2 separate regions of the Homo sapiens genome follow, and region 1 is linked to region 2. The links come from fine-mapping of genetic effects on gene expression. A gene starts in region 2. The other region holds a variant in brackets. All regions are shown on one strand. Distances are between the middles of the regions. Region 1 overlaps KCNG4 (potassium voltage-gated channel modifier subfamily G member 4). Region 2 holds the start of KCNG4 (potassium voltage-gated channel modifier subfamily G member 4).

Evidence for each region.
Region 1: its variant is fine-mapped to the expression of KCNG4 in cerebral cortex (GTEx, PIP above 0.99).

The regions. Positions count from the first base shown.
Region 1 is chr16:84,215,174-84,220,506 of GRCh38, reverse strand. It overlaps KCNG4 (potassium voltage-gated channel modifier subfamily G member 4), which reads left to right. Exons shown (of 3, transcript NM_172347.3): 3 at 1-1,850. Among named protein-coding and RNA genes, the nearest start is that of ADAD2-AS1, 21 kb to the right of the region's middle. The variant T/C (reference allele first, on the strand shown) is at 1,980.
Region 2 is chr16:84,237,824-84,243,194 of GRCh38, reverse strand. KCNG4 (potassium voltage-gated channel modifier subfamily G member 4) reads left to right here and starts at 3,183. Exons shown (of 3, transcript NM_172347.3): 1 at 3,183-3,525.

The sequences.
Region 1 (5,333 bases), 23 kb after region 2:
TTTCCCGCTGTGTGCCAGGCATAGTCCTCCACTGATGGCAATGCCAGACAGCAGCGTGGCAGAGGGCTCTGGCCCAGGAAGCACCCTGCACCAGCACCTAGCGTCCAGGGAGCCTTGGCCTCCTGGCGAGCCTGCCTTTCCTTGGAGTCCTCCAGGTGTCCCCCCAACTATACAGGCACATGTCCCCATTCTTTTAGACCCCAATCTTTCCCAAGCTGACATGTCACCAGGTGACATAGTGGTTCAGTGGCCATGACACAAGGAAAGCCCCTTCACCCTATAAAATCCCCAGCCTGGATGGCCACTCCACTCCACAAAGTGACAGGCAGATTCCCATAAGCGTTGCGTAGAAATTCCATGTCACAGGCACCTTGGACAGTAGCCATAGAAGTGTTTCTGTTCCAGAGTAACATTTTATTTATTACTTATTTATTTATTTATTTATTGACAGAGTCTCTCTCTGTCCGCCAGGCTGGAGTGCAGTGGCTTGATCCCAGCTCACTGCAACCTCCGCCTCCTGGGTTCAAGCAATTCTCCTGCCTCAGCCTCCCAAATAGCGGGGATTACAGGCACCCACCACCTGTAATCCCAGCTATTTGGAGATCAAATGCTCAGCTAATTTGATATTTTTAGTAGAGACAAGGTTTCACCATGTGGACAGGCTGGTCTTGAACTCCTGATGTCAGGTGATCCGCCTGCCTCGGCCTCCCAAAGTGCTGGAATTACAGGCACGAGCCACCGCACCCGGCCCAGACTAACATTTTTTTTTTTTTTTTTTTTGAGACAGAGTCTCCCTCTGTCACCCAGGCTGGAGTGCAGTGGCTCAATCTCGGCTCACTGCAAGCTCCGCCTCCCAGGTTCACGCCATTCTCCTGCCTCAGCCTCCTGAGTAGCTGTGACTACAGGTGCCACCACCACGCCTGGATAATTTTTTGTATTTTTAGGAGAGACGGGGTTTCACCATGTTAGCCAGGATGGTCTCCATCTCCTGACCTCGTGATCCGCCCGCCTCGGCCTCCCAAAGTGCTGGGATTACAGGCGTGAGCCACCGTGCCCAAGCCTGACTAACATTTTAATAACTACGCTTAGGCAAAATAGTAAAAGGACAAAGTCTCCCACTTACTCTCTTTCTGGGGACTGACTGGCTTGGGCGCTGGCTGAAACCCAGTGTCTTCACTCCCTGTGTGACCTCGGGCAGGCCCCTTCCCCCTCAGTTAGCTGCAGGCAGGTGTTGGACTAGATCTGTGGTTTTCTGACCTGGGTTCCACAAAGCAAGCTCAGGGACTGTCCTGCGGATGAAGAAGACCAGCAGCAAAGCAGGCAGAGCTCTGCCTCCTGGGGCAAAACATTTGCAATTAATGACACTGAAAAGAATGTGCAAATCCCCAGTCTCCTCTCCTTCCCGTCAGTGTCCAGCCCAGCCCTTTGAACTGAGTGGTAAGCTCATTCTGGAACCAGAGACAAAGCCTAAACAGCCACTGGAAGGTCTGGGACCCACATCAGCCCCCACATCTGCCCTGCCTTCTCATCGAAGACATATTTTGTGCGCATGCCTGGTGAAAACTTCTTAATGACAGCTCTGCCCATCCCTGTAACTGGCTTCTACCCAGGCATATCCCTTCTCCTCTGCTTCACCTACCAGACCTCTTCACCAAAGTGTGCCAGCACTAAAAGAAACATTTAAAATCAAAATTAGGTGAAGCACCACCACCATTATGAGATTCTATAGTGTCTTAATGTTCACCCAGTTGAGATTCTCTGCTAAATTAGACATGGAAAATTGGAATTGATTGCTCGCATGTGGGGCTTAATTAAACGCTCTATTTTTTCTCCCTGGTAATGTCCCAGGAGACGGGTCTAAATTGTTTTAGTCTAGCGTTGCCGAACTGCCTTTCCTTCGTGCTGATTGAATGGGGTGGAAGTGACAAGCAAGTTACCAGGCAGTTTCTTCACCCCTGTTGGCTGAAAGGTCCCTTATG[T/C]TACCCAGAAGCTCTTGTTTTCTCTGAGGCCAGTGGGCATGACTATAGCCAAAGGTGGACATCTTCCAGCTGAAGGCAAAGAGAAAACGGCCCTTTACGGCGAGCCATTTTCGTGTTGTATTGTCGACGTGGTTGCCAGAGGTAACTGGGAAACTTTGACTCAGCGTGTCCTAGCCAGACAGAGTTGAGCCCAAGAAGTGAGACGGAGAAGGGTGAGTTAATTCTTCAATAGCATGAAAGGTATGCAAGACTGTACTGGGGACCCGTTGACTCTGTTTCGATGGTTTTAGGACTTTAGAATATGGTAACTGGAAGTCTCATTGGAAGACAGTCAATCCGAGCAGGGAGTTTCCACGAGGGACCTGTGCACCTCTGTAGATGACGTGCATGTCACAGTGCAAAGTGTCCAGTGATTCCATCGGATTCTCAAGGGAATCAATGACCCCTCCAGAAGGACAACAAATTCTTAAGTAAATCAACTCCCTCATTTTAAAATGGAGAGATGAAGCCCCGCACAGTGGCTCATGCCTGTAATCGCAACACTGTGGGAGGCCAAGGTGGACAGATCACTTGAGCCAAGGAGCGCAAGACCAGCCTGGGCAATATGGCAAAAGCAAGTCTCCACAAAAAATACAAACATTAGCAGGCTGTGGTGGCACGTGCCTGTAGTCCCAGCTACTCAGGAGGCTGAGGTGGGAGGATCACCTGAGCCTGGGAGGTCGAGGCTGCAGTGAGTTATGATGGCAGCACTGCACTCCAGCCTGGGCGATGGAGTTAGACCCAGTCTCAAAAAAAAAAAAAAAAAAAGATGGAGAGATTAAGGCTCAGAGAGGGAGGGCCACCAACCCAAAGGCCACACAGCCAGTTCATCTAGTTAGATCCAAGTATCTCAATTTCCAGCAGAACACTCTGTCATGCTGCTGCTCTTAGGCTCATGTAAAACAGCGTCCAAGTCCTCAAAGAAAAGATTGAAGATGAGATGGTAACAACACTTTGCCACGCTGTCCTGAGCAGATGTCTTCGGGTGTCCCACGTACTTTGTGTTACACAAAAGTTACACAAATCAGTTTTACCAGACTTTCATTTTCTCATTTATCCCAGGGAAAGTTTAGATGAGAGGATTAAAGCCCTTCCCAGTTTGGACAATCTATGACTCTGGGAAGTAGGGCTCATTGCCACAGTTGATACTACGGAGAGGGGCAGACAAGAACACGGAGAGAGGTGAGAAAGAAAAACAGACTCTGTCCCTTGACTATCCACAAAATTGCTCCCTTGGCAAAAATTGGCAAGTAGTCCAAGTTTGAATGTAAGTTCACTGAGATCTCTTTCCACTTCCCGCCCACCACATCAGGGCACCTCACCCACCATGAGGCCTCATTCTGGAAGCACCTGGCTAGCTGGCTACACACACTCAGTGGCCTGCCTTTCCCCAGCAGCATATTAAACTCCCTGCCTGCTCTTCCTCACAGTGACATGCTAATCCTGGGGATCACCTAATGAAAGATTACTAGTCACCAAGCAATTGATTTTTTAACATTTTACTTGGATAATATGTCAAACCCACAGAAAAGTTGCAAGAACAAAAATAGCGCATAAAACACCTCAACACCACTTTTTTTTGTTTGCTTGCTTTTGCATTTTGTCCATCTGCTTTCTTCTTTGCTCCATCTTTTTTTTTTTTTTTGAGATGGGAGTCTCGCTCTGTTGCCCAGGCTAGAGTGCAGTGGTGCCATCTCGGCTCACTGCAAGCTCCGCCTCCCGGGTTCAAGTGATTCTCGTGCCTCAGCCTCCCGAGTAGCTGGGACTACAGGTGCCCACAACCACGCCCGGCTAACTTTTTGTATTTTTAGTAGAGACAGGGTTTCACCGTGTTAGCCAGGATGGTCTCGATCTCCTGACCTCGTGATCTGCCCTCCTCGGCCTCCCAGAGTACTGGGATTACAGGCATGAGCCACCGCGCCTGGCCTGCTCCATCTATATTTTTGTCATATCTACATGGTATTGTTAATAATATGTTTATTGAACCATTTGAAAGTAAGTTCCCCACATCATGGCCCTCAGCTTTCTAGGTGCACCTTTATTTTTGATTAATTGATTTTTTTTTTTTTGAGACAGGATCTTGCTCTGTTGCCCAGGCTGGAGTGCAGTGGTGCAATCGTAACTCACTGCAGACTTGACCTCCTGGGCTGAAGCAATCCTCCCGCCTCAGCCTCCTGAGTAGCTGGGACCACAGGTATGCACCACCGTGCCTGGCTAATTTTTTTATTTTTTGTAGAAATGTGGTCTCACTATGTTGCCCAGGCTGACCTCAAACTTCTGGGCTCAAACAATCCTCCTGCCTCAACCTCCCAAAGTGTTGAGATTACAGGTATGAGCCCACCATGACCAGCCTAGATGTCACTTTAGAATGTGGTGACCAGAAGGCTTAGCAGAAGACTCTCAGCCCAAGGAGGCTTAGCTGGGAGTTTCCATGAGGTTCCAGAGGTCTATGAGCCTCTGGGGCTTAGGTGCACTTTGAAGTGTTAAGTGTCCAACAATTTCATCAGCTTCTCAAAGGAATCCTTGACTCCTCTCCCTGCCCCTGCAAAAGGGTAGGAAGCTCTAAAGTAAACCAGTTGCCTCATTTTAGGATGGAAAGCCCAAGGAGACCCTAAACACATCGGTGTATAGATACTTAGAAGAAGGAGATTCTTACAGAACCACAGTTCAGTTCTCAGCTTCAGCACAATTAACTTCCATGCACTACTTTAATCTAATCTACTGTCAGTTCCAATTTTGTCGGCTGACCTAACAATATCCTTTGTAGCATTTTTTCCTCCAGTACAGGGTCCAGCCTAGGATGGGATACACCAGATATATGTACGGATCCTATCTCTGTAGTCTCCTGTAATCTGGACCATTTCCCCAGCTTTTGACTTAGATGGCATTGAAATTATGAGTCAAATATATCATGCACACAAGGACGCTCATTTTGGGTTTGTCCGCTGTCTCCTGGTGCTTTGAGGCCATGCATTCCTGGCCAGGACATTACATAAGTGAGGCTGTGTCCCTCTCAGGGCATTGTGTCTGGGAGTGCCATGTCCTACGAGTCGTTTATTTAGGAGGTGAGCCCAGGAGTATTGGGGAAGTGACCCCAGGACATGCTCGCGGGGTAGTGGAGATTGAGAGAGGGGAGGAAAGGGGGACTGGGGGAGTGCCAGCCTGGCCTAACGACATTCAAATAAAAAATGAAATTAATGTGCCTGCCCCCACTCCAGCAGGCAGATAGAATGTGACAGCAGGCCAGGTATGTGCCAGCCATCCAGACCATCTCTGAGGAGGACAGCATGACAGCATGTCCCCCTTGCAGATGAA
Region 2 (5,371 bases):
GTCCAGGATAGTCTCGATCTCCTGACCTCGTGATCCACCCACCTTGGCCTCCCAAAGTGCTGAGATTACAGGCAGAAACCACCGCACCCAACCAAATTTGCATTATTTAAAGCTTCTACATTGGTGTTATTTATTACTGCAGCCATAAGAAGCTCACACGTAGTCACTATGGCTCATCCCTTGATCAGAAAAATGTGGCAGAAGACATCTGGGTGGGGCATTTCTACGTATGCCTCGAGTTCCAGGCTTCCAGGACGCCAGGAGGATGGGAGATGGGTTACTGGCCCTGATTAGCTGAGGTCAAGTGTCCATACCCGGGAGGGACACTGGGTACAAGAAGACAGTAGCACTAAGCCAAAAGGTGGCTGGGACTTCACAAAGACCTGAAGAAGGGCTTAGTGGATGCCCTGGGGAAAGGGCTGACGGGACTGAACACCAGGCTGAGGGAAAAGTCCTACAACCTGGGCAAAGTGTATTGACAGAAGGCACTGAGCTGTGGAAAGAGCACTGGACTGTGAGTCCACACTGAGCCTGGCAGTGCCATCCACTGGCTGGGAGGGCTCAGGCAGGGCTCTCCCCTTCACTGGGTCTGAGTTCCTCTATAGGTAAAATGAGGGACCTGCACTAGGTCAGTAAATCAAGCCTTCTTTTAGAAAAGTTTTTGAACAGCAGACTCCTGTATTTACCTAAATCTTTCTTGGGTAATTTGGGGAAAAAAAATTGCTAAGATGGTAATCATAGCCGGGCACGGTAGCTCACACCTGTAATCCCAGCACTTTGGGAGGCAGAGGCAGGTGGATCACTTGAAGCCAGGAGATCAAGACCAGCCTGGCCAACATGGGGAAACCCTGTCTTTACTAAAAAAACAAAAATTAGCTGGGTATGGTGGCAGGTGCCTGTAATCCCAGCTACTCAGGAGGCTGAGGATCAAGAATTGCTCGAACCCGGAGACGGAGGCTCCAGTGAACCAAGATCTTGCCACTTCACTCCAGCCTGGGCAACAGAGCGAGACTCCATCTCAAAAAAAAAAAAAAAAAAAAAAAAGATAATCATAATAATAGCAAGCATTTGAATAGATAGGACTCACTTTTGTGACAGGCAGTCTTCTAAGAGCCTTATCAATGTAAATTGATTTGTTCAAAACTCACAACAAATCGATAGATGCTGTCATCTTCAGGTCACAGACAAAAAAATTTAAGGCACAGAGAGGTTAAGAAATTTGCTCAAGGTCACCCAGCAGGGAATTGGTAAATTCTTGATTTGAACCCATATACTCAGGATCCAGAGAGAACTGAGAGGAATGGGGATAAGTTAGGGGAGATTTAACCAGAAAGGCTAAATCCAGACAAATAAGAAACAGCTGAGAGAGGTGGGGAGACAGCTGGGGTAGGAGGAGGAATCATGAGCTGGAAAGACAATTCTGAAGACTCTTCTAAGAGCACCATTGGAGCAGCTGTGGGGTCTGAGGAACACGGGAGTCAGTGGAAGGAGGGAAGGAAACTTCTCCATTACTGGCAGGTGCTCTGGGATCTCTTTGAGTGGCTCTGTGTGGACACTGGACCATGCTGGGCCACAGCCTTTATTGGGGTTACACTTACAGTCTTATGGAGACAGATCAGAGTGCAGCTGCCATGGCTGAGGTAGCAGGTCCAGGGGTTCATCCTCCCCGTTGTCACTGCCCCAGGCCAGGCCCCTCAATCATTTCTGCAGAGCCCTAAGGCTTCAAGCAATACCATTTGAAAACCGCAATACCAGATGGACCTCCATTCAGTCAGTTCTCTTCTCTGCTTGGATTCGTTCCCATTGCCAAGGCCACAGAGAGCCCACCTAGGTCAGCAGCACCTGTCATCCCCTTGCAGGCAGCTGTGGAAGGCTCACCCTCTAATCTCCCTCACTCCTGGATCCTCCCATCAAAACTCAAGCGTCTGTTAAGTGATGGTTCTTTTTTTTTTTTTTTTTTTTTGAGACAGAGTCTCACTTTGTCACCCAGGCTGGAGTGTAGTGGCGCGACCTCAGCTCACTGCAACCTCCGCCTCCCGGATTCAAGCAATTCTCCTGCCTCAGCCTCCCGAGTAGCTGGGATTACAGGCACCCGCCACCATGCCCAGCTAATTTTTGTATTTTTAGTAGAGACAGGGTTTCAGTACGTTGGCCAGGCTGGTCTCAAACTCCTGACCTTGTGATCTGCCCGCCTCCGCCTCCAAAGTTCTGGGATGACAGCTGTGAGCCACCACACCCGGCCTAAGTGATGGTTCTAACCAGCAAGATGACCTTGAGCAAGCCTCTTCTCAGGGCCTCAACTATCAAATGCAGTGAAGATAACACATTCAGAAGCCAAGAGCCTGGGCTGCAAAACCTCTTAAGAAAGTGAAGAACAGTCAACGTGTAGTGAGCAACTACAAGATGCTGGTTTTACAATTGCAGCCATCGCTGGTTTCACTGTCCTCATTTGACTGAGAAACCCAAGGCCCAGAGAGGGGAAGTGACTGACCAAGAACACACAGCCAGGCAGTGCAGAGTCCAAGTTCACACCCAGGCCCTGGACTGATGCCTCTTCCTTTTCACCCACCCAACCATCCAACCAGCACAGGAGCTTGCACTTATGGTTCTGACCTTCCCTGAACCCTCTCTCATTCCCATGTTTTAGAGACAAGACAATTGAGGCTCAGAAGCACTAACTCACCTGGCCAAGGTCACCCAGCCTTTCACATAGGAGCCAGGATCCAGGCATGTGTGTGAATTCCAAGCTCGGAGCTCTTCCTATTGCTGTTCTGTAACACAGCCCCCCTGACTCCCACCCAGCGCTCAGAGCCTGGGCTTCTGTCTGAACCTGTCCCAGGCCTGGGCTGCTTAAAAGCAGCAAAAAGTTCCTCCTGCAGCTTCAACTTGAGCCTGTCACCATCATCAGCATACCCCGAGAGACTCTGGGGTGCCTGGGACAGGTAGCTGCAGATGCCTCCGGCCCCAAGTTGCCCTCTGCTCCTCCCGAGTTGTGCTCCTCCATGCCAGAGGAGGGAGGACAGCTCCCCTTGCCTCCTAGGCGGTTGGCAGAGTGGCAGCGGCTGCTGCTTCTTCCTGCTGCTGGCTGATGGAGAGATTATTTCTAAGCCCTTCCCATTCCACACCCCCCCACACTGGCTGTCCCCGTGGGACTTGAAGTGCAGAGTCCGCTGCTCAACCAGGACAGCTGCCCTGGCTCCCTCCCAGCAAGAACCCCCAGACCCTCATCTCTCATAAGGAAAGGGACTTCTGGGTCCTTTAAAAAAAAAAAAAAATCCCACCTCAATCCCCCAGGGCTCTCCTGCAGCTGCTGGAGAGAGAGATGCAGAATGAATGAACTTCTGGTTTCTGGAGGAGGCACGGGAAGAAAGATTGGAAACTGACTCTGCTAGAAACTGCTGTTTTGGGGATTTTTTTCTTCCCCTTCATCTCCACCAGAAACCTGTCCCTTCCCTGGGCACCAAGAGATGGGCTCCCCTTGCCTGGCAGAGAAACAGCTGGAAACTGGCTCCCTGAGACAAGAAGGTGAGTTAAACTGGAGGGGAAGAGTTACTGCTTGCTGTAGGGTGGGCGGGGGCCAGGGGGAAGTTGACGCTGTTAGACATCCTTGGCAAAAGTGCTGGTTTGAGTGAATTCCTTTCCCGTGCTCCAGAAGGAGCTGTTTGCCAGCTGTTTGGAGAGCCGTAGATGGCAAAATTGGGTTTATTCAGTGAATGCAGAAAGGGCAGTTTTCAGGTTCTGGAAGGAGCCCCAGGCTGGGGGACAGAGTGCTGGGTTGGATTCGGATTTGCTGTGTGACCTTGGACAAGTTACTTCCGCTCGCTGGGTCTTGGTTTTTGCACTGGGAAAATGAGGAAGCTTGCAAAGGGCTCCCCAGATTTCAAAATACTCTTCTCTCTGCAGGCTCCTCATCCTCCTCTGGCCATTCCCTGTGAGCAAAGTAATGCATTCAGAGCAACAGAATGTTGTGTAGGGAGCAAGAGTGTGAAATAGGTTACGATTCACTCTCCACTATCCACCGGAATCCAACCGGCTCTGAAATTGAGAGGAACTTTGATTTCCGTTCCACTGCCGAGTTTTTCTCTTGATTGGAGTGGAGTGCATCTGAAAATGTAAGCTTATAGATGCTTTGGAAATGGCTTTGGCTAGAATGAATAGCATAAGAAATGGTTGCAGGATCTGAAGGTGAGAAATATTATGAAAAGGACTTTTTAAATATGTGAAGTGGCTAAATCTAAAACACTCACACTAAGTCAAGCACCTCATATAGGTCTGAAATGGAGACAGCATTAGAGGCCCCGTCATTTTTTTTTGTTTTTTTCTTTTTGAGATGGAGTCTCGCTCTGTTGTCCAGGCTGGAGTGCAATGGCGCAATCTCGGCTTACTGCAGCCTCCGCCTCCCGGGTTCAAGCGATTCTCCTGCCTCAGCCTCCCGAGTAGCTGGGACTACAGGTACATGCCACCTTGCCTAGCTAATTTTTGTATTTTTAGTAGATACAGGGTTTCATTGGCCAGGCTGGTCTCGAACTCCTGACCTCAGATGATCTGCCTGCCTCTGCCTCGCAAAGTGCTGGGATTACAGGCATGAACCACTGCGGCTGGAGGCCCCTTCATTCTGCACATAAAAGCCTGCGGGCCCAGAGAGGGGGAGTAACTGGCTGGAGGTCACACAGCAAGGATGGCTGAGGCAAGCACGCAACGAACATGGAGGAGTACTGTGATTGCAAGTACGCAATGCTCCTCCGTCCCCTTAGCAAAGGCCTCCCCAAATGGGGAAGCGACCAAGAGGGATTAAGCGAGACTGGTGGAGTTCCTCCTGAGACCTAGATGCTTGGATGCTCGCTAAGCATAGTCACATTCCTGGGCTACTCGAACCTTTAATAACAGACCCTCGCTGAACCTTCCTGATGTCAGGTGCTTGCTAAACAGTAGGCAAGACACGCAAACCTTCCGTGCGTCAGCCTCCTTATCTATAAAGTGGAGCTCTTATGTCTACTTCATGAGGTTGTTGAGGTGAGTTAGGGGAAGCCAGGCATGTCAGAAGCATCTAGAAGTATTATTAATACACACTTTCTTGTATATTACTGCATATAACCCTTGCCATGCCCTACGATGTGGGCACTCAGACTGCCCCAGTCATACAGATAAAGCAAAGGACTCAGAGACACTGAGTAACCCACCTGTGCTGGCAGTCTGTAAGGGATCGGTCCCTGCCAGTGAACCTGAGAGCCTACATTCTTAAGCTCTATTTTTACTACCTGTACCTTGCAAGATTAGTATGAGTCTTGTCATTTGAATGAATGATGCTGAGATCAGAGAGGTTAAGCCACATACCTGAGACCACAGAGCCCAGAAGTGGCACCGCTCCGAC